Homo sapiens: one gene and its partner. The protein of the gene in region 1 purifies or fractionates together with the protein of each later gene. This does not show direct contact. Each region holds a gene or a part of one and is shown in the gene's direction. Other genes may lie near its edges. The genes, in order: MATN4 and VIPAS39.

Region 1 (3,000 bases):
TTTTCTGGCTGTGCAGGGTGCCGGGAAGGCCACGTGGACCTTGTTCTGCTGGTTGATGGCTCCAAGAGCGTGCGTCCACAAAACTTCGAGCTAGTGAAGCGCTTCGTGAACCAGATTGTGGACTTCCTAGATGTGTCCCCCGAGGGCACGCGGGTGGGGCTGGTGCAGTTCTCGAGCCGCGTGCGCACCGAGTTCCCTCTGGGTCGCTACGGCACCGCAGCCGAGGTGAAGCAGGCGGTCCTGGCCGTGGAGTACATGGAACGCGGCACCATGACAGGGCTGGCGTTGCGGCACATGGTGGAGCACAGCTTCTCCGAGGCGCAGGGTGCACGGCCCCGTGCCCTTAACGTGCCTCGTGTTGGCCTGGTCTTCACGGATGGCCGCTCCCAGGATGACATCTCGGTGTGGGCAGCGCGCGCCAAGGAGGAAGGTGGGCTTGGCATGGGACACAGTGGGCTGGGGTTGGGTCAGACGCTGGGAGGCAGCTTTCCCGAGGCCTGGGGCACCCTCTGAGACCCCGGCCTTGCAGGCATCGTCATGTACGCCGTGGGCGTGGGCAAGGCGGTGGAGGCGGAGCTGCGCGAGATCGCCTCGGAGCCAGCGGAACTGCACGTGTCCTATGCCCCGGACTTCGGCACCATGACGCACCTGCTGGAGAACCTCAGAGGCAGCATCTGTCCAGGTGAGCGCATCTCTCTCGGGGCTCCTCCTCTCTCTCATTGCCCGTCCTCTGATATCTCCCCTTCCTATTCACTCCCTGCCCACTTTGTAGTTATAGCCAGAGGTTGGGCTCACTAGACAGAGCTTTGCTACTCCAAATGTGGTCTGCAGGCCAGCGGCAGGGCGGTCACCCGGTAGCTTCTTAGAACTGAAACATTTCTGGTGCTCTCCAGACCGAATGAATCAGAATTTCCACTTCGACAAGATTCTCAGGTGATTTGTAAGCATATTAAAGTCTAAGAAATCCTAGACTAGGCTACCTGTCCCCCAAATCAGTGGAGGTTCAGAATAATTTGGGAAATTTTTTTGAAGGCACACCAGACAGCATTTGTAAGTGGAGCCACAGCATATATCCCTGAACTTGTTAGAATTCAACCTTATGAACTTGGCAAAGTGGCAGGACTGAATATATTTTAAGTATGCAAAGACTTTTTTTTTTTTTATTGGGGACAACATACCTCATAAGTGCAATCCCTCTACTTCATCATCTGGTGCTCAGCTGAGGAAAAAGAGACTGACTCTACCTGTGAAGAAGGGGACTCTTGAATCGCATGCAGTGTACTGTGCTCTAGGTGATACAGGGAATGTCTCCAGGGTAACTTTTACCCTAGAGACTTTAGACACTAGCCCAGGCTTAAGATGTGACTCTTCTTCCCATTTATCAGACTGCAGCTCCAGAAACAGACTAAGTAGGGCTGGTTTGGGTCTGGAGAATTTGCCTTTTTTTTTTTTTAGATATATGTAGGGGGGCTGGGCGCAGTGGCTCACACCTGTAATCCCAGCACTCTGGGAGGCCGAGGCGGCTGGATCACTTGAGATCAGGAGTTCGAGACCATCCTTGGCAACATGGTGAAACCCTGTCTTTACCAAAAAATACAAAAATTAGCTGGGCAAGGTGGTGGGCACTGAGGCAGGAGAATTGCTTGAACCTGGGAGGTGGAGGTTGCAGTGAGCCGAGATTGCACTACTGCACTCCAGCCTGGTGACAGAGTGAGACCCTGTCTCAAAAAAAGTATATATAATATACTATATATACTATATTATATAATATGTGTTTGTGTATGCATGCACATGCACGTGCATGTATATACACATACAAATATACACATACAGTCCTTCCCCCAACTCTCCTTCCCTCCCCGCTCTCAGCCAATTCTAATTATTGTGGCTCTTTCAGATTAGGGGCTCTTTCAGAGCTCTTCCTATGTGACTCTTATGGGCCCTGCAGTGTGACTTTGGACGAGTCACTTACCCCACACCTACCTTAACTTTTCTCTTCGGTAACAGGAGAGGCACTGGCTGCCCAAGGTTACCTCTAGTTCTAGAGTTCTAAGAGAAGTCTGGGTTTTGTGGTTGAAGCTCTTTATCAATTGGTGGTATGACTGTTCCCTGTCTCCAACCCTTTGTTTAGAGAAACAAATCTGTGAAGTTAGGGGTCTTTGCTGGATTCCAGCAGTTTGTTCATAGTACATATAAGACTAAGATGAAGAGACAACTTTTAAATCATTATGGCAGTGTTTTCAAAGGTTAAATGGCAGGTATTGTGCTTATTATTTCACCACGTGTAATCCTTTTTCTTTTTTTTCCTAAGGTACTTTTATTGTAGCATTTTTTTTTTCTATGTCATTCCCTGTAATCTTTTTTTTTTTTTTTTTTTTTTTTTTTGAGATGGAGTCTCGCTCTGTCATCCAGGCTGGAGTGCAGTGGTGCGATCTCGGCTTACTGCAACCTCTGCCTGCCAGGTTCAAGCGATTCTCCTGCCTCAGCCTCTCGAGTAGCTGGGACAACAGGCGCATGCCACCACGCCCGGCTAATTTTTTCTAGTTTTAGTAGAGATGGGGTTTCACCGTGTTAGCCAGGATGGTCTTGATCTCCTGACCTCGTGATCCACCCGCCTCAGCCTCCCAAAGTGCTGGGATTACAGGTGTGAGCCACAGCACCTGGCCTCCCTGTAATCTTAACAATGGCACATGCTTATAGAATTTCAGTGAATCTAAGATACCATTCATTTTAAGATTCATCACTACCTTATGTACTGCTAAGAAAAAACATGTGCCAGTTTTAATTGTAAGGCCTCCTGCCCAACCCCCAAGATGTTGATGTGTGGGGAGATAGAGTTGGATCAGGATCAGTGGTTCCTAAAAATTAGGTCACACCAGAATCACCTGGTGGACCTTTAAAAACACAAATTGCAGCTGGGCATGATGGCTCATGGCTGTAATCCCAGCACTTTGGGAGGCCGAGGTGGGCAGATCACAAGGTCAGGGGATCGAGACCATC
Region 2 (3,825 bases), on another chromosome or scaffold:
CTACCTACTCCTATCTCACCCCCTTTCTCAAGGCAAACACTGTTAAAAGTTTAATGGGTAGCTTTCCAGACCTTCCCTCATGAATTTGCAAATAAACATCTGTACTTACAAAGATATGGAAGATGGAATTATTTTCTACATTGATAAGTTCATACTACAAATATTAAGTAAGTTACTTATCCCATTTAGTAGTATTTCAAGACTTTTCCCTGCATTCGTTTCTATAGATCTAAGAAGTTATTTCAAACCTGATTCATTTCCACTCTCTCAAATCCCTTGATTTTTCTGAAAAATTCATTTCTCATTATTTCTGTATCCCTCAGCACCCCCACTCACCCACCACATTATTCTGGTCTGATCGTAAAACATAGACTAACCTAGAATGTGTTGAGTGTGCCTGGCCTACCTGCCGCTACCCCATCTTCCTCTTTCAGAACTGGCTGGGCTATACCAAGAAGAGAGCACCCATTGGCTTCCATCGGGTTGTCGAAATTTTGCACAAGAACAATGCCCCTGTGCAGGTAATGGGTCCTGAAGAGAGTTGGGTACAGGATATTCTTGGAGACCTAACTTTAAGCCTCTTACTGGTCAGTGATGGGAGACCCGATCTGCTCTTGTTTTCCCTTAAAGGCAGCACAATGGCTGCAATAGGCCTCAAGACAGAAAAGGCCAGGGAGTGAAATTCTCTCCCTTTCTCCCCTTTAGAAACAATTCCAAACTGTCCTCTCTGAGTAGCATCTACTGTGTTAGCCCAAGTGGAATACTGATGTACTGTTCAAATGATAGAAAAGGAGAACTCGTGGAGAAAAGACATCAGGGAGAAATGAGCAGAGCACTGGATCACAGCTAGAGCACTCATTGCTGGCATGTGTATCTGGCTCGAGGATCAGGAGAAGTGTGCTCTTTCCTGCTTACTGAGGCAGCATGGAAGTACTGTGTAGCGTTACCTCATTCCCATTGCAGAACTAGTCCTGTGGTTGATGATGGAAACTGGAAACATTAGCTATTGAACTCTTTTGCCTTCTTCAGGACTTTCTTTTCTACCTTGTAGAGCTCTGTGCCTTATGGGTGTTTGAATCATTAATCGGAAGTACCTCTTCCCACAGATATTACAGGAGTATGTCAATCTGGTGGAAGATGTGGACACGAAGTTGAACTTAGCCACTAAGTTCAAGTGCCATGATGTCGTCATTGATGTGAGTCCCCAAGAAATGGGAGTCCTCCGTTAGATCCTCAGTGGCGAAGCAGGGTGGGGATTATAATATTCTCTGTCCAAGATCCTGAGGTGCTCCCACCAGGTTTGACTGAATGGACAGAATAATCTGGCAAGAGTTTGTTTGGAGACCAGCACTCCTGTATTATTTTCCCAGCCCTCTGACTGCTTTCTCTGTGTTTTTATAAACTTGTCGTACTTGGAGAATTCATAGAACTAAATCAAGCTATACAAGCTGTGTAGTCTTCTCTCCAACATGGAGTTCTGTGGGCACTGGACCCCACTGTTATCCCACTATAGCCTCTTAGCCTCTCCTTGAGCGTTGGGTCAAAGTGATAATGACAAAAAGAAATAAGCCCTCATGTGTACACAGTAGCACACACCAGTAGTTCCAGCTACTCAGGAGCCTAAGGAGAGAGGATTGCTTGAGCCCAGGAGTTTGAGACCATCCTGGGCAAAAAGAACCCTGTACAGAGGCTGATTGGAGGTTTGTATTGTTTGTTTTGATGCACAGACCTACCGGGACCTGAAGGATCGTCAACAGTTGCTAGCATACAGGAGTAAGGTAGATAAAGGATCAGCAGAGGAGGAGAAGATTGATGCTCTTCTCAGCAGCTCGGTGAGCAGCTACAGTTCACCCCTCCAGCAGGCTCAGGAGACAGACAGTTCACAAAATAGTACCAAATGTATGTTCCCAAGGTCTGGAAGGATTGCAGTTGGCTAAGCCACATGGATGTAAGGCTCTCCTCTGGCCACAATGTCAAAAGCACTGCTTTGAATAGCAGAAATTACTCCTGAGATGCGGTATGATAGGGGGGTAATCTGGGGACCTCAAGCTAAGACTTAACTGTAATGCTGTGATAATAGTTAAACCTAGCATGTAGGAGAAACTAAATATTGAAAGTATGAAAACATGTTACAGATTCAGAATATCCAAACTGTATGGTCTCGTGGGGATGGATGGGACCTACCAGTTGAAAATAAGAAGTGGGTGAAATAGATGTTAGCTACCTGGGGAGCACAGCTGGTTCGTCTCTCACAGCAGGAAATTACTGAGCTCTTTGTTAATATGAAAGTTAGTTCCCTGTTAGGTATTTTGGAACCTACCTTAGGGTCAAATGACCAAAATTAGGCTTGTAAAATACAAAATAGGTGTTTAATGCATCTTTGAATAAATGAACTCCCCCATATATTTTAAAAAATTTCTCAACATCCCCCACCTCCTGATCTGATTCTACTTTTTCTTTTCCTTACATTATCTAGCTGAGCCTTGTTTTGTTGCATTTTCTCTGCCTTGCTGTAGGGATAAGTGAAAACTGATCACACACTTTCATTGTTTCCTCTTTCCACAGCAAATTCGATGGAAGAATTAAGTGGCATTGACTACCTTGAAGCCTGCCTCATTTCCTCCTCTCCTGCCTGTGAAAGCAGAGAGAGCTCTTCTTTGGGAGAGCTGCGGCATCACATCGCTTGGGCCCATTACCCATGGGCAGTGCCAGCTACTCTTGACACAGATAACTTCAGACTGATCTTCTGTCCAAGGAACATCATCTGAGGATCGAGATCTAAAGCTTTGAGTCATGAGAATGATTCTCTCCACCTGGTGCTCATATGAAGGTGGGAGTGATTTCTAGATTGGGCCCCTACTGGGTAAGATCTCACTTGGTCTGAGAAAAGTGACTGCTCCAGAAAGGAAGAGGTATGGGAGTCATAGGGTGGCTACTGCATTCCACTCAGCTAATTATGATCCAGGACTTGGCGCTGGACATTGGCAGTTCTGCTCTGAATGAAGTCAGAACAGAACCAAAATGGCCTCAGGAAGGAATGCCAGTGTTTCCCAAGACCTCCTGGAGATGCACTCACACCAGACTGCACAGACCCCTCCACATTATGCCACACATGGCCTAGACGTTGTGTTTCCTCAGCCATTTTCCCTCTGCTGCCCCAGTTTACTCTGTCCAAAACCCTAAGGTTCTTCTCTCACTTGAACACAGACGACCTTGCTTGGGTGATGAGACATCCCCTTTATCTCTTCCTCTACTGCTGGCCAAGACCCGTCACTTTATAAGAAGCTCAGATGCAGCAGTGCTGGAGAGCTCTCTCTTTATGCAAAAATCTCATTTCACCAGGAGCTTTCAGAAGTTTCACCTGGGCTAAATTCAGCAGCATTTCTGTTAGGATATTTAGATGGAGGTTTTATTTTCACACTTGGATTCTTGCTCTGTACCAATATTTGCCTCCTTTTCTGTGACTGAACTGGGTTTTTCTGACATGCCTAGACTCCTAATAAAGGTATTTCTTCCTTGGTGCCTTCTCTCCCGCTCCTGGTGGTTTTGTGTAGAATGATGAAATAATTGCTCAGGATCTTAGGATCATTACAAGTCTTCCTCAGTGACTGCATTTAGCAGCCTGTCGGCACATGTCAGGTTATAGAGTAACAGTGCTATGGCAAAGCAGGGCTGTGTGGTTAACAGAAACAGCACGGTGCTGGGAGACACAAGACCTGACTTTTTCCAGCTCTACCACTAAATAGTTATGTGATGCTGGGTGAGTCCCTTTCTTTCTCTGGATTCATTAGATAATCTAAAATTTTGTAGAGTTTGTTTGTTTGT

The links.
Region 2: the proteins of MATN4 (region 1) and VIPAS39 purify together in Homo sapiens (affinity purification with mass spectrometry; 2 studies listed by BioGRID and IntAct, with this or other methods). This does not show direct contact.

The regions. Positions count from the first base shown.
Region 1 is NC_000020.11:45,295,600-45,298,599, reverse strand, and holds part of MATN4 (matrilin-4 isoform 1 precursor), read left to right. Parts: intron 1-16; coding exon 17-430; intron 431-529; coding exon 530-682; intron 683-3,000. UniProt on the Homo sapiens protein: Major component of the extracellular matrix of cartilage.
Region 2 is NC_000014.9:77,426,377-77,430,201, reverse strand, and holds the end of VIPAS39 (spermatogenesis-defective protein 39 homolog), read left to right. Parts: intron 1-32; coding exon of another isoform or gene 33-83; exon of another isoform or gene 84-112; intron 113-434; coding exon 435-521; intron 522-1,106; coding exon 1,107-1,196; intron 1,197-1,727; coding exon 1,728-1,832; intron 1,833-2,565; coding exon 2,566-2,586; 3' UTR 2,587-3,527; downstream 3,528-3,825.